7 linked regions of the Homo sapiens genome follow. The protein of the gene in region 5 purifies or fractionates together with the protein of the main gene of each other region. This does not show direct contact. Each region holds a gene or a part of one and is shown on either strand. Other genes may lie near its edges. The genes, in order: GART, PLS3, KDSR, ARF3, CNR2, DHCR24 and HACD3.

Region 1 (4,603 bases), on a different chromosome or scaffold from region 5:
GGAACTGGAGGCTATCCAGGAATATCTGTGCTTTTCACAATCTATTAATCCATTATCCCAAGAGGAAGGGAGTTTTTTTAATTTTTAATTTGTATGGGTACATGGTAGGTATATATATTTATAGGGTACATGAGATCTTTTGATACAGCCATACAACCTGTAATAATCACATCCCTGTAAATGGGGTATTCATCACCTCAAGCATTTATTCTTTGTGTTACAAACAATCCAGTTATTTTATTTCAGTTTTTTTTTGTTTTGTTTTTGTTTTTGTTTTTGAGATAGAGTCTCACTCTGTCGCCCAGGCTGGAGTGCAGTGGCGCAGACTCGGCTCACTGCAAACTCCGCCTCCCAGTTTCAAGTGATTCTTCTGTCTCAGCCTCCTGAGTAGCTGGGATTACAGGCACCTGCCACTATGCCTGGCTAATTTTTTGTATTTTTAGTAGAGATGGGGTTTCATCATGTTGGCCAGGCTGGTCAGGCTGGTCTTGAACTCTTGACCTCAGTATGATCCGCCTGCCTTGGCCTCCCAAAGTGCTGGGATTATAGGTGTGAGCCACCACATCCAGCCTCTTCCAGTTATTTTAAAATGTGTAATAAATTATTGTTGACTATAGTCACCCTGTTATGCTATCAAACACTAGATTTTGTTCATTCTAACTATATTTTTGTACCCATTAGCATCCCCTCTCCCCGTCTCTCCCACTACCCTTCCTAGCCTCTGGTAACCATCATTGCACTATCATCATGAGTTCAACTGTTTTAATTTTTAGCTCCCACAAATAAGTGAGAACATGTGAGGTTTGTCTTTCTGTGCCTGACTTATTTCACTTAACTTAATGACCTCCCGTTCCATCCATGTTGTTGCAAATGACAGGATCTCATCTTTTTTATGGCTGAATAGTACTCCATTGTGTGATGTACCACATTTTCTTTATCCATTTGTCTGCTGATAAACATTTAGGTTGCTTCCAAATCTTGGCTAGGGAGAATAAACATGAAACTGCAGGTATCTCTTTGATACACTGATTTTCTTTCTTTTGGGTATATACCTAGCAATGGGATTGCTGGATGATATGGTAGCTCTTTTTTTTAATTTTTGAGGACCCTTCAAACTGTTCTCCATAATAATTGTACTAATTTACCTTCCCAATAGTGTGTGACGGTTCCCTTTTCTCCACATCTTCGCCAGCGTGTTATTGCCTGTGTTTTGGATAAAAGCCATTTTAACCGGGGCGAGACAATATGTCATAGTTTTGATTTGCATTTCTCTGATGATAATGATGTTGAGCACCTTTTTATATACCTGTTTGCAATTTGTGTGTTTTCTTTTAAGAAATGTCTATTCAGATCTTTTGCCCATTTTTAATCAGAGTATTAGATTTTTCCCTAATGAATTGTTTAAGCTCCTTATATATTCTGGTTATTAATCCCTTGTCAGATGGGTAGTTTGCACATATTTTCTACCATTCTGTGGGTTGTCTCCTTACTTTGTTGATTGTTTCCATTGCTATACAGAAGCTTTTTCCATATTTACTTTAGTTGCCTGTGCCAAGAGAAAGGGAATTTAGAAGCCTCACATATCACCAGTCTTTTCCAAGACATTTATTCAGAAAATTTGACTGTCCCCTATTCAAAATGGCACATCTCTTTTTTTAAAAAGTGTGAGGTTGGGCGCGGTGGCTCATGCCTGTAATCCCAAATTTGGGAGGCCGAGGTGGGCGGATCACCTGATGTCAGGAGTTCCAGACGAGCCTGGCCAACGTGGTGAAACCCCATCTCTACTAAAAATACAAAAATTAGCCAGGTGTGGTGGTGGGCTCCTGTAATCCCAGCTACTCAGGAGGCTGAGGCAGGATAATTGCTTGAACCCGGGAGGTGGAGGTTGCAGTGAACCCAGATCGTGGCACTGCACTCCTAGCCTGGGCGACAGAGTGAGACTCCCTCTCAAAAAAAAAAAAAGAAGTAGTAGTATGAGCTCACTGCTGTTTTTCTCCCTTCTCAGGATCGAACCTGCAAGCACTTATAGACAGTACTCGGGAACCAAATAGCTCTGCACAAATTGATATTGTTATCTCCAACAAAGCCGCAGTAGCTGGGTTAGATAAAGCGGAAAGAGCTGGTATTCCCACTAGAGTAAGTTACTTGGGAAAATATCTTTGCTGTGGGCCATATTTAAGCTCGTAATCTGCCCTCACAGGACCCTGGTCTATGGGCACTTGTTCTTGGGACTTCGCCATTTTGGGTGGGTGCTGGGCTTGCCTTCTTCATCCTGTCCCTTTCTTAATAATCTCTCTATCAGGTATATCTTTACAAGGAAGTGAAGTATGGTCTGTGTAAAGGTTGAGTTTTTAATTATTTTTGGTAATTCATTGAAAAGGGTTGTGCTTATCTTTTTCTATTACAGGTAATTAATCATAAACTGTATAAAAATCGTGTAGAATTTGACAGTGCAATTGACCTAGTCCTTGAAGAGTTCTCCATAGACATAGTCTGTCTTGCAGGATTCATGAGAATTCTTTCTGGCCCCTTTGTCCAAAAGTGGAATGGTAAGCAAAAATTATTTGACATCACATTGGGAAATCAATTGAAAATGGTCTCCAGAACAGATAACTTGCCAAACAATCCCAGTAGTGAACACCCATCCCAGAAATCCAACTCCTGTTTGACTGTGATATTTTATTAATACTTTAACACAGGTCACAGTTTAATTTCCTTTGTTTTACACTAAAGAATGACCCAATGATGATTTATTAACCTGCTCTCTATCCATTTACTTTGGCTTGCTGTAATTAATCACTTTTTCTAATGTAGCTTAGTTTTGTTTCACATTACTGCAAAGATAATATTTCATCTTTTGAATAAATATTCAGAAGACCTTCCTTTATTTGTTTGGAAGCAAAAGAGAGTGATTCCGTATATCCCAAAATGAAGAGTCCATCCTCTCTTAGGAAGCATAGACCATTGCCAGGAGTTGGCAAGGAGGAGGTTATTGCCAGAAAACACATACTATCTATGTTACTGCCTTCTTCCCAAAAGCCTTGACTGCATCCTGTTTGTGTATGTGTGCACACAGTTGGTCAATAAATGCATTTTCCCTCCAAAGAGTTTATGTATTCTTAGGTGAATGTAGTTAGAGCACTTGTGGTGTGATATAAAATAGACAATGCCTTTGGTGACATGAGCCACACAGAACTAATCTAGCATCTGTCTGGTGGACAGGTCACTTTGTGGTTAGAAGTCAAGCACATAGATGCTATGTAAGAACCTCTTGCTTATTTTTAATAGTACGTGCCAGCAACAAGCTGGTATTCAGCTTGAACTCCCCACCTTCCTGTCACCATGAATGTCTGTTCAGAGCACCCCAGCATGCCTTTAACTGTGCAAGGCGGGTACTTGCTGCTTCCAGGGCCTTCTTGGATGAGAACTTACTTTTACCTCATTTCTGTGTTTGGCAAAGAAAACATCCATCCCAGAAATCCAACTCCTGTTTGACTTCGGATCTAGATAGGAAAACGTATTCCTTTAACAGAATACCCAGGATTTTTAAATTCTGACCACTATGCTTTTTTTAATTTTTAGGAAAAATGCTCAATATCCACCCATCCTTGCTCCCTTCTTTTAAGGGTTCAAATGCCCATGAGCAAGCCCTGGAAACCGGAGTCACAGTTACTGGGTGCACTGTACACTTTGTAGCTGTGAGTATGTCTTTTTCTACCAACATAATATTAGTAGTCAGATGTAAATGACACTGGCTAGAAGGTAATGTTCAAAACTTTTGCTTACTTTTCCAGGAAGATGTGGATGCTGGACAGATTATTTTGCAAGAAGCTGTTCCCGTGAAGAGGGGTGATACTGTCGCAACTCTTTCTGAAAGAGTAAAATTAGCAGAACATAAAATATTTCCTGCAGCCCTTCAGCTGGTGGCCAGTGGAACTGTACAGCTTGGAGAAAATGGCAAGATCTGTTGGGTTAAAGAGGAATGAAGCCTTTTAATTCAGAAATGGGGCCAGTTTAGAAAGAATTATTTGCTGTTTGCATGGTGGTTTTTTATCATGGACTTGGCCCAAAAGAAAAACTGCTAAAAGACAAAAAAGACCTCACCCTTACTTCATCTATTTTTTTAATAAATAGAGACTCACTAAAAACAAGACTAGTTAGTGCAGCATATCTGAGACATACAGTTTTCTTGGTCTTTTTTATGCTCTTTTTCTAACCGTCACCCCCTCTTTTTTTTTTTGGTATTGCCTGACAACATGATGAATCACCTCCATGTTTATAAGTTTTATGTTTTCAGCTGGGCACAGTGGCTCACGCCTGTAATCCCAGCACTTTGGGAGGCCGAGGCAGGCGGATCATGAGGTCAGGAGATCGAGACTATCCTGGCTAACACAGTGAAATCCCATCTCTACTAAAAATACAAAAAATAGTTAGCTGGGTGTGGTGGTACGCACCTGTAATCCCAGCTACTCGGGTGGCTGAGGCAGGAGAATCGCTTGAACCCAGGAAGTGGAGGTTGCAGTGAGCCAAGATCATGCCACTGCACTCCAGCCTGGGCAACAGAGCGAGACTTGTCTCAAAAAATAATAATGGGCTGGGTGCG
Region 2 (4,603 bases), on a different chromosome or scaffold from region 5:
CCTTAAAGCACATTGTTCTGACCCCAAGGCTAGCCTTGTGGCACAGATGAGCTGGAAATGGATTTAAGGTGCACCTGAGTTACTAGAGTTAACTACACTGGTAGATAGACCCCTCTAGTGGAAGTGAGGTGATAATATAATTTTAGATCGAAATAATAAATGTTTAACCTCAAAAAAAGGAAGTTATTACCACTCAACTAGGTTACAGTGGTAGGGGGATAAGTTCTTTTTTAAGTATTGTGAAATCATGTCTAAACAGAATCATCGCTAGGCTCTAGTCCACAGCTTTTCATTGTCTTGGGATGCCTACTCATTGAACACCACCCCCAATATTGCTGACTTTTTTTGGTGGTATGATCTAATGAGCCCAAATTTTTATTGAAATTAGGGGGCTGGGAGTCAAATTCTTGATTTTTACTGTTAGATCTAGCAGATAGCAACCCCTTTACCTGAGGTGGGGAGCTATTAATAAATAAATAACACTTTGCCTTGACTTAATACAGACGATCAACATTGAAGTCCAAAGTCTCTAGTCTGATGTAACCATTTAGATTCAATTGATAAAAATGACTAGGCTTATGGCATTTTGGGTAGAAGGATTAATTATAACTAGTGAGTAATAATTTGGGTGAGATTAAGCCTCTTCCACAAGTGGTTACACGCACATTAGACTTTGACTGTGACTGTTTATACTGGCAGAATGTCAGTATCTAGGGCACTATCAGAAACCCAATGAGATTTTTCTCCCAGGAGAACAGAATTCTGTTACTGAAAATAAAAGGGCAGCTTGGCCATGGTGCTTGAGCACCAAAGTGGTTCTTTTTGGTGACACTGAGAGGGTACAAGAAGAAAGTCCATTTGCCATTATCCCATATTCTGTTTTAGGCATTATTTCTACTTGGATTTTCATGAAATGTACTGACAGTGTTCTTAGCACATATGATAAATTCATGAGTTTGCTGTTGTGTTTGATCTAGCATAATCTATGTGGAATGTATAAGCTGAACTGTTTCTTTTTTGATGTTTGGTACAGATTATGAAAGTAGCTGGTATAAAATAAAATTTGAAAATGAATATCTCTCAATACATGACAACAATGGGGTATCTGTTTTTAGAATCATGTTGTCTTTGGTCATATGGCAATTTTTCTTTTGGTGAAGAGTGATCCAGAAGGCAAAATTTTTGATCTGTGAAAATAATACAACTCATTTAGAAGAAGTCAGCTGGGTCATGTTTTGAGTCTGTATTATTTTAGACAGTGATATACCATATAATGTATATTCAGTGTGTTGGAGGTTTCAAAGCTTTTTGGATACATTACAATGTTGGAAGATTTTTATATACCAGTGGTCATGACTAGCTGATTTTAGTTATGAGAGCGCTTTGGTTAAAGTTATGGAAACAGTCTAATCGTGAAATGTCAGTCTTAGAAGATCTGATCATACTTGGGCCAATTTATTTTAGTTACGGAGGTGAGACAATTTCAGAAGATTCACGATAAATTTAATAATACCAAATTTTGCCTTAGTCTTGACACTTGGAAGATAAATATTAGTGAGTATAAACTGTTTTAGGGATGAAGAAGTATTGTTAGTATACAAAAATGAAAATACTAATTATTTTAGCATGGGTCTTTTAGTCCTTTGCAGTCTGGACAGATAGATTATCTTAAGTAAATCATTGAACTTGCCCTCAGAGGAATTAGATTCTAGATAGTGCTCTGCCATTGACTCATAATTTGACCTTCGGAAAGTCATTTAAAATTATTATATTAATAACTAATTGAGTACATACATGTGCCAGACACCATTCATGCTTTTGTTTATAAAAAGAGAGGATTGCTCAAGCTTTTTGGTTTGCTGGGTTTTATTTTTTCAAATATTCATAATCTGGCTTATTTCACTTATCAGTTGACTTTTCAAACTTTGATGCAATTGCATTGATCCAAGCTAAATACTTTGTTGGCAAATTGATGACTATTCAGGAAAGTGATCACCAGTGGGTTATTCCATGACTAATGTTAGTTCTTTAAAATAAAGAGGTGCCATTTATTTAATTCCTTGACAGGGATTTTTGGTGCATTAAGCCTACTGATTTTATAATATGAGAAACCTTACATTTTCTTAAAAGTTTAGAAACGTATTTGATAATAAGGAGGTAGTGTTGTTTATTGGAAAAGCATTGAGCATAGAATTTAGGGTCTTTTAGTCCTTTGCAGTCTGGACAGATAGATGATCTTAAGTAACTCATTGAAATTTTCTGTGGTCATATCTGGGTTTCACTTTATTTTTAAGCCATGTGATTCCAATCTACATATTTCACAGGCATGGTAAAAGGATAAGTGAGAAACGTGAAGCCTTGGCTTTTAAGCAGACAGGTGCTATATAAATTCAAAGTACTGCAGCAGTGTATCATAGAAACACTAAAGCTTTAACAAGAGTTTACAGAAATGGCAGGGTTCTCATCACGTAAGTCTTGCCACATTTTTCTTTGTCTGTAAAAGTTCTGCACCCATCCAATTTTTACAAGCAAAGGAAAAATAAAGCCAGACATATTATAATGAAAAATAAGAGACTAGGTTGATAACAATAGAATAAAAACCTACATGTGATACTTTCTTCTTCTTCTTTTGTTTTGTTCTGTTTTGTTTTGTTTTAAAGACGGAGTCTTGCTTTGTCGCCCAGGCTGGAGTGGTGCAGCGGCCGTGATCTCGGCTCACTGCAAGCTCCTCCTCCCGGGTTCAGGCCATTCTCCTGCCTCAGCCTCCCGAGTAGCTGGGACTACAGGCGCCCGCCACTGTGCCCAGCTAGTTTTTTTGTATTTTTAGTAGAGACGGGGTTTCACCGTGGTCTCGATCTCCTGACCTCGTGATCCGCCCGCCTCGGCCTCCCAAAGTGCTGGGATTACAGGCGTGAGCCACCGCGCCCGGCCCGTTTTGTTTTGTTTTGTTTTGAGATGGAGTCTCGCTCTGTCGCCCAGGCTGGAATGCAATGGCGTGATCTCAGCCCACTGCAACCTCTGCCTCCGGGTTCAAGTGATTCTCGTGCCTCAGCCTCCTGAGTAGCTGGGATTACAGGCGCGTACCACCACGCCTGGCTAATTTTTGTATTTTTAGTAGAAATGGGGTTTCACCATGTTGGTCAGGCTGGTCTAGAATTCCTGACCTTGTGATCCGCCCGCCTTGGCCTCCCAGAGTGCTGGGATTACAGGCATGAGCCACCGCGCCCAGCCCATGTGATACTTTCTTCTATTTCTTACCTCAAATATTGTGCAAGGTAGCCCGTTAAAGCCATTAATTGGGTGGTGTTTTTCCCCTTTTTAACTAACTACTGAGTAGAATTTTGGTCTTCAGTGGTAATTGTTACAGAGTCCATTGGCTTACCATACCTCATTTTTAGTTTTGTGATTGCCCATAATGGGAGGTTTCGTGTAAAAAACCTCATAAAAAATCAAGTTTTTCCTCCTCATAATTGCAGTCTAAAGGAGGACAACACGCAGGTCTGGGAAACTGCATAGTGGAAGAGATAATCTATACATTTAAGTAGCATGCCATGAATAACACAAAAAATGGCCTGGCACGGTGGCTCACATCTGTCATCCCAACACTTTGGGAGGCCGAGGTGGGTGGATCACTTCAGGCCAGGAGACCAGCCTAGCCAACATGGTGAAACCCCGTCTCTACTAAAATACAAAAACTTAGCCAAGCACGGTGGCACGGGCTTGTAGTCCCAGCTACCCAAGAGGCTGAGGTGGGAGGATTGCTTGAGCCTGGGAGGCGGAGGTTACAGTGAGCCGAGATTGCGCCATTGCACTCCAAGCCTGGGCTACCGAGTGAGACCCCATCTCAAAAGAAAAACAGAAAAACAAACAAACAAACAAAAAAAAACAGAAAATGTGGGAAGTTAAGTTGAAAAATAAACACCTTCAAAGCTATTAACTTGGATTTTCTTTTCTTTTCTTCTTCTTTTTTTTTTTTTTTTTTTTGAGTCAGGTTCTCACTCTGTCGCCCATTCATACTCTGTCCAGTTCATTGAAAATACAAGTCTGATTCCCTTGAGTTGTGATATTCATACACACACGAGTATATATACACTTATGTGTGCATATGTATATTATATAAAGTTTTACGTGATATATAATATAAGTTTTTACTTTCTGTAAAATAAAATTTGTTAGGGCCGTATAATAGTTTTGAATATTCATATTATTGTGTTCCACATTATAAGCTCTAATTACATCGTGTTGCACTCAGATTGACATTCTGCTGTTGACACTGAAAATAACGCTTTCATTCATAGATGAATGTAATTTTCAAGCTTTTTTTCTATATTTCTTAACTTGCTTGAATGTTCCCATTTTTGCCATTTCTTGTTGTTCATTTTAACATTTTGGGGCTTGTGTTTCAGATCAGGAAGAATCACCATTATAGGGTGCAAAGAGTTTGCTCAGAGGTGAAAATGATACGAAATTGTCCCTAGAGCACATCCTATTGCTATACTATTCAACATGTATGAATTAATCTACTGGGAAAGTGTCTTGTGTAGTGTGTACTTTAAAGATGTTTTCAATCACTTTGCTTTGGATTAGAAAAATTCAAGGTAAC
Region 3 (4,603 bases), on a different chromosome or scaffold from region 5:
CTTGAGTTACACACTTTTTGAGCCAGAGGTTGTAAACGATTCCCATGGGCCTGTAAAGCAGTTTTGTTGGGTCCATCTGGTGTGAGTGTGTGTGTTTAAGATTTTAAAATAGTTTTAAAATTAGGTTTTATATAAAAGGTCCAGATTTCAGACTTTTCTTGGAAAATCAGAAGGTTTAGCTGCACAGAGTCTGCATTCTTACCTGGCAGTCATCAGCAAGCACAGGTGGCAGCTGCTCCTGAGGGAGGAGCACAGTCCCTGCAACCACTATGGTCTGCAACCCCCTGCTCAGGCCCCCTGGATGCGTTTGAGTGTACCCTCACATTTTCCACACCAGTTGTTTCTAAACTGCAACTATACATTGCATGAAAACATTCAATGACTCCTTGATACCATCAGGATAAAGCTTTAAAAATTCCATTGCACCTGAGTATGGTGGCTCATGCCTATAATCTCAGCACTTTGGGAGGCCAAGTCAGGAGGATCGCTTGAGCTCAGGAGTTTGAGATCAGCCTGGGCAACATAGTGAGACCCTGTCTCTACAAAAAAATGTAAAAGAAAAGAAAGCCAGGCGTGGTGGTGTGTACCTGTATTCCTAGCAACTGGGAGACTTCTGCTTGAGTCCAGAAGTCTGAAGCTACAGTGAGCTGTGATCATACTCCTGCACTCCAGCCTGGGTGACAGAGCAAGACCCTGTCTCTAAAAAGGATTTAAAAATTAAAAAAATTTCCATCGCATGCCATAAACCACCTGATCTCCTACCCCACGTACCTTTCCAGGCTCTTTTTTTTCTTTCTTTCTTTACCCATCTTCTTCTTTTTGGAATCTTCTCTGTGTCCTGCCAACTTCTAATCCTTCAGGTCTCACCTTAAATATTGTTTTTTCCGGAAGATCCAAGGACTGGCTTCAGTGCTCTGAGGGTGTAGGGAAAAAAACAAAGGGATTTTTCTATTCTCTTTTTTTTTTTTTTTTTTTTTTGAGACGGAGTCTTGCTCTGTCACCCAGGCTGAAGTGCAGTGGCACGATCTCAGCTCACTGCACGCTCTGCCTCCTGGGTTCACACCATTCTCCTGCCTCAGCCTCCCCAGCAGCTTGGACTACAGGCGCACACCGCCACACGCGGATAATTTTTTTGTATTTTTAGTAGAGATGGGGTTTCACCGTGTTAGCCAGGATGGTCTCAATCTCCTGACCTCGTGATCCACCCGCCTCGGCCTCCCAAAGTGCTGGGATTACAGGCGTGAGCCACCGCGCCCGGCCTGATTTTTCCATTCTCTTATGCACGGGGACTCATGCCTATGGTCCCAGCTGCTTGGGAGGATGAGGCAGGAGAATCCTTTGAGTTTGGGAGGTCAAAGCTATAGTGAGCCGCGTTCATGCCACTGCACTCCATCCTGAGCAACAGGATATCAGTAATCACGGGTCTCAACCCTGAGGCAGTAGTTTCAATTTTACTTGTCTTTCCAGCCTGAGAATAAGCTCATTGAGGGCAGGGACTGTGTCTCTCACCACAGTGTTCACAGCACCTAGTATAGGGTCTCGCTTTCATGCTCAGAACATAAATTGCAAACCAAAAAAGCCTTGATTGTAGTTTGGCTATTTGAGATGCTGCAGTGGGTCTTTTTAAAGCTATTATAACCCTAAGACTGCAAGCAATATATATTTTATTCTGCTTATGGTTTGAATTTATTAATTGGACAAATATTTTGTTATGTATCTGGGCTGTCCAGCGGTGCAGAGCACACACATTCTGTTCTCACAGCTTACTGACATTTACAGAGTTTTCATTATATTCATCCTTAGAGCAGACTAGAAGATTTGTCTTAGAAACTGTTTGTTAGAGACCTAGGTACCTTGAAATAGTCTTGTACCGTTGGATGCACTAAAAGCTCTCTCTTTATCTTGCAGGTGGTCACCATGGGCCTTTTCCGCACTATTGCTTTGTTTTACCTTGGAAGTTTTGACAGCATAGTTCGTCGCTGCATGATGCAGAGAGAAAAATCTGAAAATGCAGACAAAACTGCCTAATCTTCTTACCCCTTGGAAGAAGACTGTTTCCAAATAATTTGAACAGCTTGCTGCTAAATGGGACCCAATTTTTGGCCTATAGACACTTATGTATTGTTTTCGAATACGTCAGATTGGACCAGTGCTCTTCAGGAATGTGGCTGCAAGCAAGGGGCTAGAAGTTCACCTCCTGACAGTATTATTAATACTATGCAAATATGGAATAGGAGACCATTTGATTTTCTAGGCTTTGTGGTAGAGAGGTGAAGGTATGAGAATTAATAGCGTGTGAACAAAGTAAAGAACAGGATTCCAGAATGATCATTAAATTTGTTTCTATTTATTCTTTTTTGCCCCCCTAGAGATTAAGTCCAGAAATGTACTTTCTGGCACATAAAGAAATCTTGAGGACTTTGTTTAAACCTTCCATAAAAAAACAATTTTCGGTTTCTCGGGTTCTCTCTCTCTCTCTCTCTGTCTCTCTGTCTCTCTGTCTCTCTGTCTCTCTGTCTCTCTGTCTCTCTCTCTCTCTCTCTTTCTTTCTTTGTGTATTTTATTCAAGATGAGTTGGACCCATTGCCAGTGAGTCTGAATGTCACTGACAGCCCTGTGTTGTGCTCAGGACTCACTCTGCTGCTGGTGGAAACTCATGGCTTCTCTCTCTCTTTGATCCCATAAAGCTACGAGGGGGACGGGAGAGGGCAGTGCAATGGGAAGTAAAGAGATATTTTCCAGTAGGAAAAGCAATGCTTTCTTGTCTTTAGACTCAAATGCTTAGGGAACGTTTCATTTCTCATTCATGGGGAAAGGCAGCCTCCTTAAATGTTTTCTGAAGAGCGGTAAAATCTAGAAGCTTAAGAATTTACAGTTCCTTCAATAACCATGATGACCTGAAGTTCACCTATCCCATTTTAGCATCTACTTGTTTTTCCCATCTCTTCCTTTCCAATTTTGCTTATACTGCTGTAATATTTTTGTAAAAAAAAAAAAAAAGGAAAAAAAAGACCAGCTAAAATTTTCGACTTGACTTTTTAACTTAACTCATGAATTAATTAAAGCAAATGAAAAAATTAAAAAGTGTGACTTTTTCTCGGAGCATATATGTAGCTTTTAGGAAAGGCTGATGATGGTATAAAGTTTGCTCATTAAGAAAAAAAGACAAGGCTGATTTTGAAGAGAGTTGCTTTTGAAATAAAATGATCACCTGTTCTTTATGTGACTCTCCCACTGAACCTGCAGACATTATTTTTATACCACATGCTAAGGAAGCCCACTCATCTAACTCTGTAGCCCTGGAAACCCTCTTGGCCCCTGAATGTTGTTTCCAGGTTATAGGATCTGTGTTCATTAGTGGATTTTGACAGCAAGTGCCTCTGATGAGTTTTAGCCAACATTCCCCGTTGCATCCTGCTCATTGTTCACACTCCTCTGACTTGAGGAGAGCTGCCTTCACCTTGATCTTGTAACCTGTCTTCCTTGCATATACGGTAGCACATTCCAGATCACTTCGGTGAGAAAAGACCTCTGTTTTTGAAGAGGAAACTTTCTTAAATTGTAAAATAAAACTTAAAAAACATAAAAACTCTATACAAAAATTGAAGACCTAAAAATTATAGCATACCTTTTTTTTGCTCTTGAGTTTTTGAAGCTCTTGACTTTAAATGACTTAACTTTTTAAAAAATAAGATGTTTTATGGCTTTAACCCATGTTTTTATTAAGATCTGAGAATAGCATATTTTAAACACTGATAGATACAGAAGAAATTATTATTTAATATATAAATTGCTTGGAATGATTTCATTGCAGCTTGTAAGGATGGGTTGATGCCAGAATGGTTTCATAAATCTTTCAGTCTTACAGAGCCAAAGTTTGCAGATTATATCGAGTTGCGTTGTGCAGCTGCTAAAATGGAATCATAGCTTTTTATAATTTGCAGAAAACAATTGCATTAATGTCTGGATGTTTCTCAGTTTTATTCTTTTCTCATAAATGTTCCTCGAATGTTGGCACCTTCTACTGCTGATCTATATTAGAATCTAGTCCAAGAAAGTGTCTGATTTAATAACATTAAATAGTTATTTCAATATATTTTTTCAAATTATCCTCATAGAACCTGTTGCCTCCAGTGAGATGGTAATCTACTACCCGAATAAATTTAAGAGCACCTGTTGAGAGCCCCTGTTTTGCGGTAGAAGACAATTGTCCCTATCCCAATTTCCACTGAAATATGAGAGCAGATTTGCAGAGACCATCATGTCAGAGAAGAAATTTCCTTGTCAGAGATGTTAAAGGGCTACAGTCCCTTAGCAAAGAAACTTCGAAATCTAAGTTGGTTTGTGTTTTTCTAAATTTGATACCGTAATTCATTTGGCAGCAAAATCTGACTTGAACTGATGTGAGAGTATTGTACTTTATATTTATGCTACTTCATTGTGACTTAATTTTCCCTGAAGAAATATCCATGGATTTGATTATAGGTTTTCCCTTAGATGCTGTGGAGGTGTTTTGTAATATTCAAAATATGCCCATATTGCCTTTTTAAAACCCCAAAGATTATGAATTCTGAAACACATCCAGCCCAGCGGGTTTTGGATA
Region 4 (4,603 bases), on a different chromosome or scaffold from region 5:
TTGAGTGGTTAAGGTCATTCAAAGTAAGGCCTTGATGTGGCATGCCAGGAAATAATAGGTGTAACACTGGGATCAGCTTTTGAACCAGGACTTCAGCATGACAGCCGAGCAAAGAAGCAAATCAAAGGACAGTGTACCTGTGTTCTGGGGCAAGGCATATTGGCTAGTTATATCTTTTTCAGCCACCACTATACTCACAGTTGGTAAGCATTTAATCAGCAATAGTTTCAGTCATAAAGGACAGCAAGATAAATGTGTGGCATAAATTTAATTCAGAATCTGGGCCAAAGCCTGATACCAAACCTTTAAAGCAAAGTGTCATCTGGAGCTGAAGGAAAGGCTGCCTGAGCAAGAGGCAGAATAAAGGCTAGAAGACTAGGAAGACTTGGGAAAGGTTTAAATTTCATGAGGTGTTAGTAGTATGACCAAAAGTCACTACTACAAATTGCCAAGGTTGGTGAGAGCTGTTCTTAGCTGGGTAGGTCGCTCAGGGGTCCTCAGGAGTCTGTCCACCTGGGTGGGTTGAGGCAGGAAGAGTAGGGAGGAAGGCTAGCGGGTGGCTTGACTGAAGTTGAACCCTAAGGTTGAGCTAGCCCTTCTTCCTGGTGTGTGAACCCTCTAGGTCAGGGGTAGGGCTCATCTGGGGAACCTACTGAGAGTGCCACGCCTGGCTCATTAGTGGCTGTCTGGGGAGGCCTTTTGAAGATGAAACACTTCATAAGCACTCATTGTTTCTGTTTTTTCGGACAAACTAGTACTTTGGTCTTCAGGGACTGTTGATCTGGCTCAGTTGCACTAGTCTGGAATTTGCTGCAAACTGAGAAGGGTGGTGGGGGAAATGTCAGAAGTTTTTGTAAAAACAACCAAACTCCCACCAAACCCCCATGCGTTAGCTTGTAAATAGGATTCCTCCCCGTCCACCTTTCACATTCTTGGGTTTGGGCGCACTTTGTCTTGACCTGTCCCTTTGGCTGCTGAGTTTGGGGTGTGTGTGTGTCTCTGGTTCCCAGACTCTAGAGAATGCCAGCAGCTGGCATATGGTGATTGCTGAATAAGCTGCCCGCTGACACATGCCTCCTGCAGGCACAGAGAACTGGTTTGTATGGGTGATTCTGAATCCTCATTTTATTATTGTTTCAAAGATGCATTTCTGTGGCTATCCTGTGCCATAGAGAAGAGAGGGAAGAAGAAAGGGAATGAATGAATGAATCTGATTCTGTCTGTTGGGGCAATGGCTGGGGTGAGCAGATAGACATTTTATACCTTCATAATGATTCTTTTGGTCCTGTTCATCCTTTCAGCAGGTATTTGTTGTTGTTATTACTATTATTATTATTATTTTGAGATGGATTCTCGCCCTGTCACCCAGGCTGGAGCGCAGTGGCGTGATCTCGGCTCACTGCAACCTCCACCTTCCAGGTTCAAGTGATTCTCCTGCCTCAACGTTCCGAGTAGCTGGGACTACAGGAGTGTGCCACCATGCCCGGCTAGTTTTTGTATTTTTAGTAGAGATGGGGTTTTACCATGTTGGCTAGGCTGTTCTCAAACTCCTGACCTCAGGTGATCCACCCGCCTGGGCCTCCCAAAGTGCTGGGATTACAGGCGTGAGCCACTGCGCTCGGCCTCAGCAGGTATTTGTTATGTGCCTACCATATGCCAGGCATAGCATCCAGTCTGAGTGAGCTTTCAGTAAAGTCAGTAGAGACCCTGGGGATTAGTTCAGTTTTTGAAGTACTGTGTGCTAGGCACTATTCTTGGTACTGGAGACAGAGCAGTGAACAAAACACATAAGGAGCTGATATCTTAGGCAGAATAAAACAATCAGCAAGAAATAAATATATAATGTATCAGATGGTGATAAATGTTGTGAAGAAAAGTAAAGTGGGATAAATGGGGTAGGGAGTGGTGTGTGTCTGTGTGTGTGTGTTATACATGTGGTTGTGGGAGGCCTCTTTGGTAGGTGACATTGAAACAGACAACTAACTGAAGGAGGTGAAGGAGTAATCTATGATGGTTATCTGGAAGAGAAGCATTCCAGGCAGAGGTGATAGCAAATATGAAAGCTTTGGGCCAGGCATGGTGGCTCATGCTTGTAATCCCAGTGCCCTGGGAGGCTAAGGCAGGAGGATTGCTTGAACCCAGGAGTTTGGGACCAGCCTGGGCAACACGGTAAGACCTCGCCTCTTTAAAAAAAAAAAAAAAAAGCTTTGAGGCAGGAAAGGAAAGTGTTGGGGAATTGGAGTGGAGTAAGCAAAGAGAGAGTAGTAGATCTCATGAGAGAAGTAGGGGAGTGTAGGTCTTGTAGGACCTTGTAAGCCATGGTTTGGGCCTTGGGTTTTACTGAAAAGGAGCTATGAAGCCACGAGTGGGTTTTGAACAAAGGACTCATATGACCTGAGTTTGGTTTTAAAACCACCCTAGATGCTATATGGAGAATAGGCCGAAAGGCTTAGGGAAGAAGCAGAGAACCAATGAGATGACTGCCTCATTGCAGCGACCATGTGGGACAGCCCCCTCCTTGGATGGGCCACAGTAAGCCAAGGATGCACCTAGCTGAGGAGTAAAGGGGTAGCCCCGCCATACCCCACCTCTCTACTGCCAGTGCACTGTTGTTTGAACAGGGCACAACATTAGCAGCTGGCATTCCACAGAGTGTAAAGGATCGGCTTCTTTTAAGAGTGCGGCTTTCTTATTCCTCCTTTATTTTGGTGTGGAAGAAAGATGGAGTTGCAAAAATATAGGAAGGGAAGAGGCAGAGTCTCTTGATTAAAGGAGAAAGCATAAACCTTGGGAAACTGGCAAGCCTGAACCTTGTCAGGAGTCACAGAGAGCCACTCCTTATTCCGCTCCCTCCTCTCCCACCCTTGCCAGAAGTCTCAGGGTAAGTAAGGTTAGGGGAGGGAGGGGCATTAATGATCTTACAATGCCTTTGGGTATAGGGTAGAATGTCAGAACTGAAGGGACTTCAGAAATCATCTAGTTCAATCCCCCTTCCATTTACAGGTGCAGATATGGAAAAGTGAAGTAACTTGCCCAGAGTCACATGGTTAGATTACTGGCAGAGCAGGGATCCTTAGTGTTTACTGCTTTGTCTCTGTTCCCAAAGACTCAGTATGTATCTGAGTGGGCCTTGGTATTTATAGTCCCCTCAGGCTCTCCGTTTGTCATGAATGAACTCTAGCCATGACCTTGGGAAATTCTATTTACTTGGAAGTCCTGACAAGCAAATGATGGTATGATTTTACATTTCCTTTGTCTAGGATCAAGTCTTCCATACCAGGGACCAGGCCAAAACCAGACTGCCACTGCCCCTACTTGGGCCCCACTGTCCCCAGAAAGCAGCTGCTGTGATCATGGGCAATATCTTTGGAAACCTTCTCAAGAGCCTGATTGGGAAGAAGGAGATGCGCATCCTGATGGTGGGCCTGGATGCCGCAGGAAAGACCACCATCCTATACAAGCTGAAACTCGGGGAGATCGTCACCACCATCCCTACCATTGGTAAGAGCACAGCTTGGATGTGGGCTTTCACGCCGGCAGCTGAGGCAGGGCAGGGACCTATTCCTGGTTCCCCAACCTGGCCTCTTCTCCCCAGGCAAGTCCATACAATTTGTGGGGTTCAGAAAAGAGGGTGGTGTTGTTTAGCTTACTACCAGGTGCTGAGGCTGCTGTTTGCCCACCTAACCTGGCTCTCCCTGATGCGGGAACTTCCATGGCCTGGCACTCAACAGCTGCCCTCAGGCACGGAGTTGGTTTCTTCTCTGTGTTGTTTGGAAAGCAGGTAAAAGGCTTTGATGTTCCTGCCAAAGGCTTGGAATTACTTGGGTTTAGATCTTTGGTGGCCAATCTTGGTTACAGTTTGCTGAAGGGAGGTCTCCCTACATTTGCTATGTAGATGGGGGCTCCAGTCAGCATTGTCAGCTGGCTCTGCCTTTGGGGCTCCAGGATGCCAGCTTACTTCCCTTTCTTCACTCTGCCTCTCAGGCCCCACATCTTAGCTGAGGCCGACTCTGGTAGCCAAAGTACCAGAGCAGGGCTGAGTCATTTTGTAGGAGGGAGCACCAAAGACTGAGTGGAAAAGTCAGGAAAGTTGGCCCACGTTACCCAGGCAACTGTGAACCTCTCAACCAACTTCCTCATCCTCTTTGACTTCTCTTAGGTTTTCATTTTGGCCTTCAGGCTGCTAGCTTAACGATTATCAGGTCTGAGGAAGCCTTAGCTTTTGTTCCATTGTTGGTGTTATGGCCACCACTGGGGGAAAGCAGAACCAAACTCATTGTGGTGGTGTTTGCGGGGCTAGTGTTTGAGGCCAAGTGGCCATTGCCTGTTTTTTTTCCAAAGGGTTCAATGTGGAGACAGTGGAGTATAAGAACATCAGCTTTACAGTGTGGGATGTGGGTGGCCAGGACAAGATTCGACCCCTCTGGAGACACTACTTCCAGAACACCCAAGGTATGCTCAGGCCTAGCGTGGGTTGGTTGGGTATGAGCAGAGAGTGTGGCTGTCTTTGTTAATGGGTGGCCAACTGTTACCCTGCTGCAGCTCCTGGGGGCAGAAGAAAGGGAGGAAAGGGAGCAAATATTTGGAGGGTGTCAGGCAGGTG
Region 5 (4,603 bases):
TTTTATCTTGTAGTATGAGCGTTTATTATTAATTTATTTATTGAGAACAGAGTCTCGCTCTGTTGTCCAGGCTGGAGTGCAGTGGCACAATCTTGGTTCACTGAAACCTCCGCCTCCCAGGTTCAAGCGATTCTCCTGCCTCTGCCTCCCAAGTAGCTGGGATTATAGGCACCAGCCATCATGCGGGCTAATTTTTTTTTTTTTTTTTTTTGTATTTTTAGTAGAGGCGGGGTTTCACCATGTTGGCTAGGCTAGTCTGAAACTCCTGACCTCAGGTGATCCACCCGCCTTGGCCTCCCAAAGTGCTGGGATTACAGGTGTAAGCCACCGCACCTGATAGTATCAGCATTTAGAGCTGTAAATTTCCCTTTGCATACGACTCAGATGAATCTCACACATTTTAATGTCTCACAATTTCGTAGTCATTCAATGCCAAGTATCTTCTAATCGCCTTTATGAATTTTTGACCCAGGAATTGTTCAAAAGTGTGTCTTTTTTTCTTTTTTCACACATCAGACTGGTAACGTGACAATGTCATCATAGGTTTGAGGAACATCTCACACGTGAGCGTGAAAACCAGTCATCACGCTTATGAACTACGAAGGGATCCCGAAGTGTGTTTTTAAAGATCCATACCTGAGGCCAGGCACGGTAGCTCATGCCTATAATCCCAGCACTTTGGAAGGCCAAGGTGGGCAGATAACCTGAGGTCAAGAGTTCGAGACCAGCCTGGCCAGTATGGTGAAACCCCATCTCTACTAAAAATACAAAAAATTAGCTGGTCGTGGTGGCAGGCACCTGTAATCCCAGCTACTTGGGAGGCTGAGGCAGGAGAATCGCTTGAACCTGGGAGGTGGAGGTTGCAGTGAGCCAAGACTGCTCCACTGCACTCCAGCCTGGGCACAACAGTGAGACTCCATCTCAAGAAAAAGATCCATACCTATGAACTTTGTTAGTAATTTTTTTTTTTAAAGACAAAGTTTCGCTCTCGTTGCCCAGGCTGGAGTGCAATGGCACGATCTTGGCTCACCGAAACCTCCGCCTTCCCAAGTTCAAGCGATTCTCCTGCCTCAGCCTCCCGACTAGCTGGAATCACAGGCAGGCACCACCATGCCCAGCTAATTTTTTGTATTTTTAGTAGAGACGAGGTTTCTTCACGTTGGTCAGGCTGATCTCGAACTCCCTACCTCAGGTGATCCGCCCGCCTCGGCCTCCAAAGGGCTGGGATTACAGGTGTGAGCCACCATGCCCGGCCTAGCAATTTTTTTTTTCTTTTTTTGAGACAGGGTTTCACTCTGTTGCCCAGGCTGGAGTGTAGTGATGCTCATTGCAGCCTCCGCCTCCTAGGTTCAAACGATTCTCCTGCCTCAACCACCTCAGTAGCTGGGATTACAGGTGTGCACCACCAGGCCTGGTTAATTTTTGTATTTTTAGTAGAGATGGGGTTTATTAGAGACAGGCTGGTCTCAAACTCCTGGCCTCATGTGATCTGCCCGCCTCGGCCTCTCAAAGTGTTGGGATTATAGGCATGAGCCACCATGCCCAACCAGTAATTTTTTAAAATTATTATTATTACATATATTTTTTGAGACGGAGTCTCACTCTGTCACCCAGGCTGGAGTGCAATGGTGTGATTTTGGCTCACTGCAAACTCCGCCTCCTGGGTTCAAGCGATTCTCCTGCCTCAGCCTCCCGAGTAGCTGGGATTACAGGTGCCTGCCACCATGCCCAGCTGATTTTTGTATTTTTAGTAGAGATGGAGTTTCACCATGTTGGCCAGGCTGGTCTCTAACTCTTGACCTCAGGTGATCTGCCCGCCTTGGTCTCCCAAAGTGCTGGGATTACAGGTGTAAGCCACCACGCCCAGCCTTAATTATTAATTTCTAAATAAATTTTATGTGGTCAGAATACAATTTTATACAACAGATCATTTTATATTAATTTATATTTATAATTATATTTAAATTATATGTAATATGTTAATTTATATTTAAATTACATATATAAACTATAGGCTGGGTGTGGTGGCTCACATCTGTGATCCCAGCACTTTACGTGAGGTCAGGAGTTTGAGACCAGCCTGGCCAACATGGTGAAACGCCATCTCTACTAAAAATATATATATTAAAAAAAGCCATGCCTGGTGGCAGGCACCTGTAATCCCAGCTACTCAGGAAGCTGAAGCAGGAGAATCACTTGAACCCTGGAGGCGGAGGTTGCAATGAGCCAAGATCGCGCCATTGCACTCCAGCCTGGGTGACAAGAGTGAAACTCCATCTCAAAAAAATAAAAACTAAAAATAATACATTTTATATATTAGAAGGTGATAGTGGTATGGAAAAAATAAAGACGAGGTCAGTGTAAAGAAAAGCAAAAGAGCTGGAGGTTGGGCTAGGTGCAGTGGCTCATGCCTGTAATCCCAGCACTTTGGGAGGCTAAGGCGGGCAGATCACGAGGTCAGATCAAGACCAGCCTGACTAACACGGTGAAACCCCGTCTCTACTAAAAATATGAAAACTTAGCCGGGCATGGTAGTATGCGCCTGTAGTCCCAGCTACTCGGGAGGCTGAGGCAAGAGAAAGGCTTCAACCTGGGAGGCGGAGGTTGCAGTGAGCCGAGATTGTGCCACTGCACTCCAGCCTAGGTGACAGAGTGAGACTCCGTCTCAAAAAAAAAAGAGTTGGAAGTTGGGATGAGTTAGGGTATTACATGGGGTAGTCAGGGTAGGTGTCATTGAAAAAGTAAGATCTGGGCAAAGACTTAAACAAGGTGAGAGCAAGCCAAGTAAATGTTGAGGGAAAGGTGATCCAGGAAAAGGGAACAGCCAGTGCAAAGGACCTGTGGCTGAAGAGAAGACTGATTAAGAAGCCAATGTGGCTAAAGCTGGGTCACCAAGGGAATCATGGTAGAAGGGACCATAACACTAAGGACTTTGGCTTTTACATAGTGGACTAGGGAGCTATGCAGGGTTTGGGACAGAGAAATGACAAGATCCTATATTTTTAAAGGATCACCCTGACTGCTATGTTGAAACTAGATTAGAAATGGGCCTGATTAAAAGCAGGGGGCCCAGTTAGGAAGCTATTGCAATAAACCAGATAAGAGATGATGCCTGGTTTTTTTTTTAAGCCTAAAATTAATCAATGTCTTTACCCACTTCCTAGATAAAGCTTTAACTCTATTCATCTCTTTCTTGTCTTGCATTTTTGTCATTCACAATTTTATTTCTACTTTGTTTTTGTTTTTGTTTGAAACAAGGTCTCATTCTGTCACCCACACTGGAGTGTGGTGGCACAATCATAGATCACTGCACACTGGACCACCTGGGCTGAAGTAATCCTTTGACCTCAGCCTCCCAGGTAAATGGGAATACAGGCATATGTCACCACGCCTGGCTAAATTTTTATGTCTTGTAGAGATGGGTTTCACCATGTTGCTTAGGCTGGTCTTGAACTCCTGGGCTCAAGCAATCCTCCTGCCTTGGACTCCCAAAGTGCCAGGATTTCAGGCATGAGCCACTGTGCCCAGTCTCCACTTTGGTTTTGTTTGTTTGTTTTGTTTTGTTTTTTGAAACAGAGTCTCACTCTGTCACCCAGGCTGGAGTGCAGTGGCATGATCTCGGCTCACTGCAACCTCTGCCTCCCAGGTTCAAGCAATTCTCCTGCCTCAGTCTCCTGAGTAGCTGGGACTACAGGTGCACACCACCACGCCTGGCTAATTTTTGTGTTTTTAGTAAAGATGGGCATAAATTACTCACTATTATCATTGTTGTTTTATAAAGCCATTTGCTTTTCTTTACTCATATTTGTCAACTTACTTGCTCACTATTCTTTCTTGCCGTTCTTTTCTTCCCTTTGGGTTGAATTTCCTTCTAAAATGCACATTCTTTAGATGTTCCTTCAGTGAAAGTCTGTTAGTGAACAATTTTCTTTGAATTTTTTAGACCTCATTCTTGAATGATAGTTTAGCTGGGTATAAAATTCTAGACTGACAGTTTTTTCTTTATTTTTTGGCTTCTATTGTTGCTGATCAGAAATCTGCTCTTAAAATTAATTATGGTTCTCTTACAGGTAATTTGGCTTTTCATTCTTACTGCCTTATATTTTTCTTTGTCTTTGGTATTCTGATATGTATGCTATATGATATACATGAACATGGAATGTGTTTTTAAAAATTCTACTTGGGGCTGGGTGTGGTGGCTCACGCCTATAATCCCAGCACTTTGGGAGGCCGAGGTGGGCATATCACCTGAGGCCAGGAGTTCAAGCCCAGCCTGGCCAACATGGAAAACCCCTTTTCTACTAAAAATACAAAAATTAGCTGGGCATGGTGGTGCACACCTGTAGTCTCAGCTATGTCAGGAGGCTGAAGCTGGAGAATCACTTGAACCTGGGAACTCTGTCTCAAAAAAAAAAAAATTCTGCTTTGGGTTCCCTGTGATTTCCAAATCTGAATAGTCTTATTTTTCATGGATCCTGAATAATTCTTTTTTGTTGTTGAGGCAGGGTCTCATTCTGTTGCCCAGGCTGCAGTGCAATGGCATGATCATGGCTCACTGAAGCCTTGGCCTCCCTGGGCTCAAGTGATCCTCCCACCTCAGCCT
Region 6 (3,500 bases), about 31 Mb from region 5:
AGGAACACACAACCAGAGGGTGGGCCGAATTTGTGGACCCCTGCAGCACACATTAGACACCCACAACCGAAGGCAGTAGTGCCCTCTGTATTGATACAGGATACAGTGATGAGCCAGTGGTGCTAAGATGCCACCATTTATGAGGTTTTTTTGCTTTCTGTTTTTTCAAAGCTCCTCTGCTTCTCCGTATCAGATGTCCCCCAAAGGGTAGGCAAATCATTCTTACCAATGCTTGCCATTAGGGAGGGGGAGGAGAGTTGAGGGTGGGTGGGGAGCCAGGTCAGGTCATTGCTGGGAGGGAAACAGGGTCAGGAATGCGCAGGGAGGCTTAACTTTTGTACTATGGGGATTTCTGCTGTGGGCATGTGTAGGTCTTCCAAAGGTAACCAAGGAAACAATAAAAGCCAGGCTATTTATTGAGATCCTGTTGCATGCCAGACATTGGCAAAGGCGCAGGATCTAACAGAAGAAAACAGGCAGGTCCCTGACTTCATGGGAGTGGTCCGGCAGCTCCAGAGGAGTGAGGGAAAGGGTCACTCAGCCTTCAGTGCTTACACACATGGCTGCTTTGGGGAGTCACCGTGCCCCCTAGTCTGATGTGGACCCTTTCATGAGCTGCCCCAGCCTCTGTTTGTCCCCACTCTTCCCACACTCATCCAGTGGCCTGTGTCTTCCACACCTGCGGTTGTGGGTGTCTTAAGGACAGAGACCATGTCTCAGTTATCTTGGTTCCCCAGCACCCAGCATAGAACCTGGTTCCTGACCTCGGAGGCCCCTTGGAACTGTTTTTTTTTTTTTTTTGGAGACGGAGTCTCACTCTGTCGCCCACACTGGAGTGCAGTGGCACAATCTCGGCTCACTGCAAGCTCCGCCTCCTGGGTTCACGCCATTCTCCTGCCTCAGCCTCCTGAGTAGCTGGGACTACAGGCGCCCGCCACCATGCCCGGCTAATTTTTTGTATTTTTAGTAGAAACGGGGTTTCACCGTGTTAGCCAGGATAGTCTCGATCTCCTGACCTCATGATCCATCTGCCTCGGCCTCCCAAAGTGCTGGGATTACAGGCATGAGCCACCGTGCCTGGCCAGAACTGTTTAATGAATGGAGGAGCAGCCTTGGCTTCAAGGGCTCCCAGAGCTGTGAGAATCGGGCATCAGTGGACACTGGGGACCCTCAGGAACATGGTAGGACTCAAGCAGGGAGGAGGATTGTGACCCAGGGGCCAAAGTCTTCTCTGTTGGAGGTGGGCAGAGCTGGAGGGAAGAGGGGGCCATCGTCAGGAGGCAGCAGTGCTGAGTGAGGAAGCTCCCGCCTCGTGGCAGTCTGAGGCGTGGAAGAGAACAGCTTCTGCGCAGGAGGGTTTCCAGGGAGACCGAATTGGGGGAGCCAGGCGGGTGGTCAGGCTGTGAGCAAGGGATGCTGCAAACCAGTGGGCTCCTTGTCGAACCTGAGCCAGACTGCACCCACCCCATGAGCGCTGTCTCTGGCTGTGTGCCCCTAGGGAGACTGCTTAAATTCTCTAAGAATCACTATGCTCATTCAACAGCATTCGTTTCTCAAACATTTATGGAATGCCAGCTCTATTCCAGCCAGATCTCAACAGCTAGATCAGGAATGATAGCTAGCTCATTATTGCACTCCAGGCATGGGGTTGAGTGCCTTCCACTTGGTATTAATATCTCATTATCCTCACAAGGCCCATTTTACAGATAAGGAAACTGAGCTCAAAGAAGTTAAGTAACTAGCCCGGGGTCATCACTACTGGCGAATGCCAGAGCTGAGAAGCAAACCTAGATTGGACTGGTAAAGTCCTAGGTCCCATCACACCCCCTCCAAAGAGGGGAATTGGACTCAGGCGTGCTTCTGTCAAGCACAGAATGGGACCTGGCCCCTGGCCCCTTGCACTTGGAGACATTCAACCCTTGTTGGTTTTTTTCTCTCCAACCCTAATCTTTGTTTTCCAGGACATTATCCCCTTTGGCAACAACCCCATCTTCCGCTACCTCTTTGGCTGGATGGTGCCTCCCAAGATCTCCCTCCTGAAGCTGACCCAGGGTGAGACCCTGCGCAAGCTGTACGAGCAGCACCACGTGGTGCAGGACATGCTGGTGCCCATGAAGTGCCTGCAGCAGGCCCTGCACACCTTCCAAAACGACATCCACGTGAGTGGGGCAGGGCAGGGAGGGCGCACCAGGTGCATTCCCTTGGAATCCATGGTCTCCTCCCCTGAACCGTGTGACCGACCTTGGGCACACTGCCCTCTGGGTGTTTTCCCAACTTTAAGATGAGGTCCTTGTCCCTATGTCTGCTGAGGCCTCAACCCACTCAGTGATGGCCCCCCTGGGAGAGGAGTCATAGGGTCTGGCATCGAGCACTCCCATGACCTGCTCCGATTGTGTCCTCCAAGGTGGTGGAGTCAGGGTGTTCTCAGCCAGGGCTGGGGGGCGGGGCAGTGAAGCTGAGAGCACCTGAGGGGGTCTTGAGAATGCTGCAAAGCCTTCATTTGGGTGGGTATGAGCGGGCCAGCCATGAGCCTGTCACCTGTTGGAGAAAAAGCACCAATACCCACCTCCCTGGTCTACCCAGGTCTACCCCATCTGGCTGTGTCCGTTCATCCTGCCCAGCCAGCCAGGCCTAGTGCACCCCAAAGGAAATGAGGCAGAGCTCTACATCGACATTGGAGCATATGGGGAGCCGCGTGTGAAACACTTTGAAGCCAGGTCCTGCATGAGGCAGCTGGAGAAGTTTGTCCGCAGCGTGCATGGGTGAGTGGCCCAGAGTATAGTATGTTGCCTCTAGCTGACAGCCCCAGGGTACTGCTCCAGGGGAATGAGGCCAGCTCTATGGAGAACCAGGAGCCCCAAGCCTATCAACTGGTTCCTTAGGGCCCCTGCAGCTGTGGCAGCCTCTGGGTCAGGAGGTAAGCTGTGAAAGATGGGCAGGGGGTGGGCTTGCAGGACTACTTGCCCTCTTCTCCCTGCACCCCCTCCTCCAGTGAACATGTCACACCCCCCCAGCAGCCCCAGCCAGAAACCTGGGAGTCACCCCACTCCTCCCCACGGAACAGATGATGGGTGTGGGCTTAGCTGGGTCCAGGGGCAACTGCTCCAGATGGAAAGGCCAAAGCTAAGGAGAGAGGGATTCCTGTCTATGAAAACCACGGAGAGGCCCAGGACAGAGGATTGCTCAGAAAACAGCCTGGATAAACTATTGAGTGGAACATGGACAAAGCCAGGAAAAAACAATGCCATATGATTCCTTTCATATAAAATTCCCAAAAACACACATGAATCCATACTGATAGCGCATCAGTAGTTGCCTGGGGATGGCAGAGGGCAACGGATAACTAAGGGGCATGGGGAAAGTTTGGGGCTGATGGTTATAGCCACGATCTGGACTGCAGTGATTGGAGTCCTTGGTTGCATGCATGTGTCAAGCTTATCCAATTGTGTACTTTAAATTATGTCTAGTTTATTGAAAGTCAATAACAGATTAAAGGAAAA
Region 7 (4,603 bases), on a different chromosome or scaffold from region 5:
GTCCTCATCCTGCCCATCTTTCATTTGGCTTTTGTATCTTTTTGAGAAAGCGCCATCATTATGGGACTGTTTTTTTTTTTTTTTTTGAGCACTTCCTTACTTTCTGGCAGTATAAGCTGCTCCAGGCTTATCTTGCATGTATGTTTCCTGCTCCAGCCCTGGAACAGCCATTTCTTCAAGCATCTCTGTTCTTATTGTGGAATAGCATTGGAAACCAAGATCTGGGTGCCGGGTATGCTCATTGCTACCAGGTTGCCATTGCCTTTAAGTTCTCTTCACTGACAGAACAAGAAAATATATGTTTGGATAGTAACCCATGCATACACATACACCTGTAAATATTTCTGTATGGATCCATCTGTATCTCTGTTAAGCTAAACGTGAGTTCATAGTGATGTTGGAAACATGATCTTAGCTTCTGGAAAAATTATACTAAAATTCTAGAAGTCTTGAAAAATAAAATAGCAGTCTACCTCCTGCCTTAAACTTCTGTTTTATTTCTCTGACTGCGACAGATCTTCTGGATGTCCTTTCCAGCTTTAAGATTCCAAGGTCACTTGTCAGTTTGGAAGCCAGCTCACTGGGTTAATTTTGTGAACAATGGATGGGCACCTGTGATGCTAATGCTGCTTAGTAAGCAGGAGTCAGGCGTTTGGCCCTATGACCTAGAATATTCTCCCAATGATGCACTGACCCCAACTGGAGGAGTTGGCTTTGAGGGAGTCAGATTACTCAGCCAGCATATGGACTTTTGCAAGCATCTGGGAATTCTAACTTGTGTTCTTGGAAAACTTTTGTCTAAATTCTAGGAAGAAGAGCGCCTAAATAAACTCCGACTGGAAAGCGAAGGCTCTCCTGAAAGTAAGTTGTGCTGCTGCCATGGTAGTTACCAGTTAACTTGTGCTAGTGTTGGAAGTATGGATAATTGTGATGTGGCAGGAGAGCTAATGATTTCATCCCGGTGAGCTGTGTGGGTGAGTTTATGAAAAAGCTTTTAGGTCCAGTGCTTAAGGTCTGCACTACCCACGTCAGAATCCTTACCTTTAATGTGTCCTTTGTGTTTTGGTTGTTATTTCATGAGTACACCAAGGCTAGTGTAGCAGAATGAAAGAACTCCTGGACTGGCCTCATGGCAGATGGCAACCAAATCCTGCAGAGACTTGTGGAAATGATTGCATGGATCCAAGGCTACACTCCTTCAGCCTGGTGTTTTTCTCCCAGCTGAAATCTCAAAGGCTGTATGATACATAAGTGTGGTTGTCAGCCTGAAAGATGGAGAGTATTCTGTGTAGTCCTGCTATTCATTAACCTTTAACAAATCAATTTCTGTTTCCGTCTAACCACTTTAAGCAGGAAGCTCTGTAAGTGTATTATCTTCTGGGTGATGTAGTTAGATTAAATTCAGCAGCTATCTGTTAAAGTCATGCTGTGTGGCAAGCATTGTGCTGGGCCCTTGACTAAGAGCCAGAGGGATCCATCGTAGCGCCTATACTCAAAAGGGCTTACATTCTTAGTGAGGGAACTGCAGGTGTATGTAAAACTACCTCTGAAAAGCAGAATGAAATAAGTCCTTCTTACTTGTTCTAAGTTGAAATTTTTCAAATTTTAGTGGTACTTATCTAGCATGCCATAAATAAGGGAGGGGAAAGTTTTGGAGCAGTAGTTTTCAAACTGTGTTCCATGGTGCCCCAGGGGGTTCCCAGAGATGCTTTGGAGGAGTAGATCACACAAACAGGTCTACCTCAGTCAGAGCAGCTCTCTTTTGAGTGTTATGTGTTGGCATTCCGAATAAGGTTTCTTTTGAGAAGGAATTTTAAAAAATATTTGAATAGCGACTACCTTAGGGGAATATTCTTTCAGGAAAGCCGAGGAGGGGAGAGGTTCAGTGGAGGCAAAGAATAACAACATAAAAAAGCCACTTTGAGATTTAAATTAATGTTTTGGTGTCTTAAAGGGATAAACTTCAAAAATAGATAAAAATTCTAATATATGGATTTTTTGGGTGTTAGGTAAAGCTTTAACTGTTTTACCTAAATTCATAAAGTTTTCTGAACAAGGAAGTTCTTTATGGTGGGGAAGTGTAATAGATTTTTGTAGTTTTGAAGAAATAACTTTTAATTAGCTAAATGTTGCTAGAAGTCTGACATTTTTTGGAGTCTTAGGATAAGGCTGTGTTGTTTTTTTTTTTTTGAGATGGGGTCTTGCTATGCTGTCCAGGCTGATCTTAAGATACTGGGCTCAAGTGATCCTTCTACCTCAGCCTCCCAAGTAGCTGGGATTACAGGCATATGCCACTGTGCCTGGCTTAGGCTGCTTTTGATTGACCACATTATTAAATGTGATTATTTGAGGACCAACCAGATGTCTTTGCAGAATATCTGTAGCCTAGGAATAAATATGTAGCAGCAAAATCTGAACACCATAGATCTCCTCTTAAGAACTGTCCTTTTCTTTACCCTACTCCTTTGACTCAACAATGACTCTGTCAAAGCCTCTTGTTTCTTCCTTTACTCTGTAATTGGCTGTATCTTCATGAATCTTAGGCTGCAGATAAAATTAATGTCCCTTATTTTCCTGCATGTTGGTTTGAAATTGTCCTGCTTTGGTTATGTCCTCAGTCTGCCCATCTTTCAAAGCCCAGATCAGGCCAAGTATGATGGCTCATGCCTCTAATCCCAGCACTTTGGGAGACTGAGGCGGGAGGATCTTTTAGGCCAGGAGTTCGAGATCAGACTGGGCAACGTAGCAAGACTGTGTTTCTACAAAACATAATGGAATATAAAATTAGCAAGGTGTGGTGGCACAGACCTGTAGAACTAACTACTTGGGCGGTGAGGTGGGAGGATGGGTTGACTCCAGGAGGTCAGGGCTGCAGAGAGCTATGGTCCCACCACTGCATTCTAACCTGGGAACAGAGTGAGACCCTATCTCAAAAAAAAAAAAAAAAAAGCCCGGATTAGATACCAGCTTTATCCATGTAGACTAGCTTGATGCCTACTTCTCCAGCCTAATGTCGTTTTTTCACCTTGAAAGTTTCACAAGACATTACTTGTTACTCCCCACCTGGTATTACAGTTTTTAGATTGTAAGCTCTGAGGGCAGCCTTGAACTACCTTTGTATCCCAGTAGTTCTTCTCACAGTACCTTGCACATTGTAGGTATTCAGTTAATGCTTGGTTGAGTGAATATATAACCAAATATCAGGGTTGTTTTTTTCATTTACTGTATCTGTCTCTTTGAGCTAGTTTGACCTCAGTGACCTTAAAGAAATTCCAGAAAAGAAGAAACTATGGATTATATTAAGATGACTGGAGGGCCAGGCACGGTGGCTCATGCCTGTAATCCCAGCACTTTGGGAGGCCAAGGTGGGCAGATCACCTGAGGTTAGGAGTTTAAGACCACCCTGGCCAACATGATGAAACCCTGTCTCTGCTAAAATACAAAAATTAGCCGGGCGTGGTGGCGGAAGCCTGTAATCTCAGCTACTCGGGAGGCTGAGGCAGGAGAATTGCTTGAACCTGGGAGGTGGAGCGTGCAGTGAGCCGAGATTGTGCCACTGCACTCCAGCCTGGGTGACAGAGCAAGACTCTGTCTCAAAAAAAAAAGAAAAAAAAAATTGAGCCGGAGCTGAGGAAATCTTTATTTCCTTTTTGTAATGCCTCTTCAGATGGCCACTCATTTTTTTGCCAGGTGTTATGGAAAAAATACAACACTACAACACTCAACTGCTTTTTCCTATTTTCTTACTCAACAACAATCAACACAGAAGACTTCTGTGACCAAGTGGGTGGGTTTTTTCCCCCACATACCAAGCAAGCAATGAGTTCTGCAGCAGACACCAGCTGGGTGCCCTCTGGTTCAATTCTGACACTGTTTACCTAGAGATAGCATCAGGTTCCCACAGATGGAGGGCTCAGTCCCCAAGACACACCCCTGCCCCCAGCCTGTCCCGAGTCTGAACCTCCAGAACTTGTGACCAATAGGCTGTAAATTACGGTTCCCACAACCCGCTCCTGTGGTTTGATTGATTTGCTAGCGTGGCTCCACAGAACTCAGGGAAACACATTTGTTCATTTATTATAAGGGATATTATGAAGGATACAGATGAAGAGATTAGGAGGAAGTATGGAGGAAGTGGCGCGGAGCTTCCATGCCCTCCCCAGGTGTGCCACCCTCCAGGAACCTCCGTGTGTTCAGCTGTCTGGAAGCTGACTAAACCCTGTCCCCTTGGGCCTTTTATGGAGACTTCATCGGATAGGCATGACTGAAGCGTGTTGAACTGTGTTGAAATGTGATTGGACAAAAAGGGTCTGACCTAAACCCAGCAAGGCCTGTCTGTCCAGATTCTTCTCAGCCTCTCTGTGCAGTGTTCCCTCCTCCAGAGTATGAGGCAAGACCCTCTCTGGAATGAGGGTCTTAGGACCCACAATCAGATTAGAGTCGTGCCTTGGGCAGCTGAAAGGAAGGCAGGGAAGGTCATAGAGGGAGATTCTGTTGTCTGAGGCCTAAAGTGTCCCAACATTATAACAAAAAACTGTAACAAGGGCTGTGGGAGTTATAAGCCAGAAACCGTTGCCGAAAACCTATATATACATATACACAT

What was found.
Region 1: the proteins of CNR2 (region 5) and GART purify together in Homo sapiens (affinity purification with mass spectrometry; one large-scale study listed by BioGRID and IntAct). This does not show direct contact.
Region 2: the proteins of CNR2 (region 5) and PLS3 purify together in Homo sapiens (affinity purification with mass spectrometry; one large-scale study listed by BioGRID and IntAct). This does not show direct contact.
Region 3: the proteins of CNR2 (region 5) and KDSR purify together in Homo sapiens (affinity purification with mass spectrometry; one large-scale study listed by BioGRID and IntAct). This does not show direct contact.
Region 4: the proteins of CNR2 (region 5) and ARF3 purify together in Homo sapiens (affinity purification with mass spectrometry; one large-scale study listed by BioGRID and IntAct). This does not show direct contact.
Region 6: the proteins of CNR2 (region 5) and DHCR24 purify together in Homo sapiens (affinity purification with mass spectrometry; one large-scale study listed by BioGRID and IntAct). This does not show direct contact.
Region 7: the proteins of CNR2 (region 5) and HACD3 purify together in Homo sapiens (affinity purification with mass spectrometry; one large-scale study listed by BioGRID and IntAct). This does not show direct contact.

The regions. Positions count from the first base shown.
Region 1 is NC_000021.9:33,503,507-33,508,109, reverse strand, and holds the end of GART (trifunctional purine biosynthetic protein adenosine-3), read left to right. Parts: intron 1-2,005; coding exon 2,006-2,136; intron 2,137-2,407; coding exon 2,408-2,549; intron 2,550-3,582; coding exon 3,583-3,698; intron 3,699-3,794; coding exon 3,795-3,986; 3' UTR 3,987-4,177; downstream 4,178-4,603. UniProt on the Homo sapiens protein: Trifunctional enzyme that catalyzes three distinct reactions as part of the 'de novo' inosine monophosphate biosynthetic pathway.
Region 2 is NC_000023.11:115,563,746-115,568,348, forward strand, and holds part of PLS3 (plastin-3), read left to right. Parts: intron 1-4,603. UniProt on the Homo sapiens protein: Actin-bundling protein.
Region 3 is NC_000018.10:63,329,207-63,333,809, reverse strand, and holds part of KDSR (3-ketodihydrosphingosine reductase), read left to right. Parts: intron 1-1,908; coding exon 1,909-2,028; 3' UTR 2,029-4,603.
Region 4 is NC_000012.12:48,939,846-48,944,448, reverse strand, and holds part of ARF3 (ADP-ribosylation factor 3), read left to right. Parts: intron 1-3,260; 5' UTR 3,261-3,353; coding exon 3,354-3,501; intron 3,502-4,341; coding exon 4,342-4,452; intron 4,453-4,603.
Region 5 is NC_000001.11:23,878,260-23,882,862, reverse strand, and holds part of CNR2 (cannabinoid receptor 2), read left to right. Parts: intron 1-510; exon of another isoform or gene 511-608; intron 609-3,258; exon of another isoform or gene 3,259-3,359; intron 3,360-4,603. UniProt on the Homo sapiens protein: Heterotrimeric G protein-coupled receptor for endocannabinoid 2-arachidonoylglycerol mediating inhibition of adenylate cyclase. May function in inflammatory response, nociceptive transmission and bone homeostasis.
Region 6 is NC_000001.11:54,852,696-54,856,195, reverse strand, and holds part of DHCR24 (delta(24)-sterol reductase precursor), read left to right. Parts: intron 1-1,961; coding exon 1,962-2,159; intron 2,160-2,583; coding exon 2,584-2,762; intron 2,763-3,500. UniProt on the Homo sapiens protein: Catalyzes the reduction of the delta-24 double bond of sterol intermediates during cholesterol biosynthesis.
Region 7 is NC_000015.10:65,557,871-65,562,473, forward strand, and holds part of HACD3 (very-long-chain (3R)-3-hydroxyacyl-CoA dehydratase 3), read left to right. Parts: intron 1-809; coding exon 810-861; intron 862-4,603. UniProt on the Homo sapiens protein: Catalyzes the third of the four reactions of the long-chain fatty acids elongation cycle. This endoplasmic reticulum-bound enzymatic process, allows the addition of two carbons to the chain of long- and very long-chain fatty acids/VLCFAs per cycle.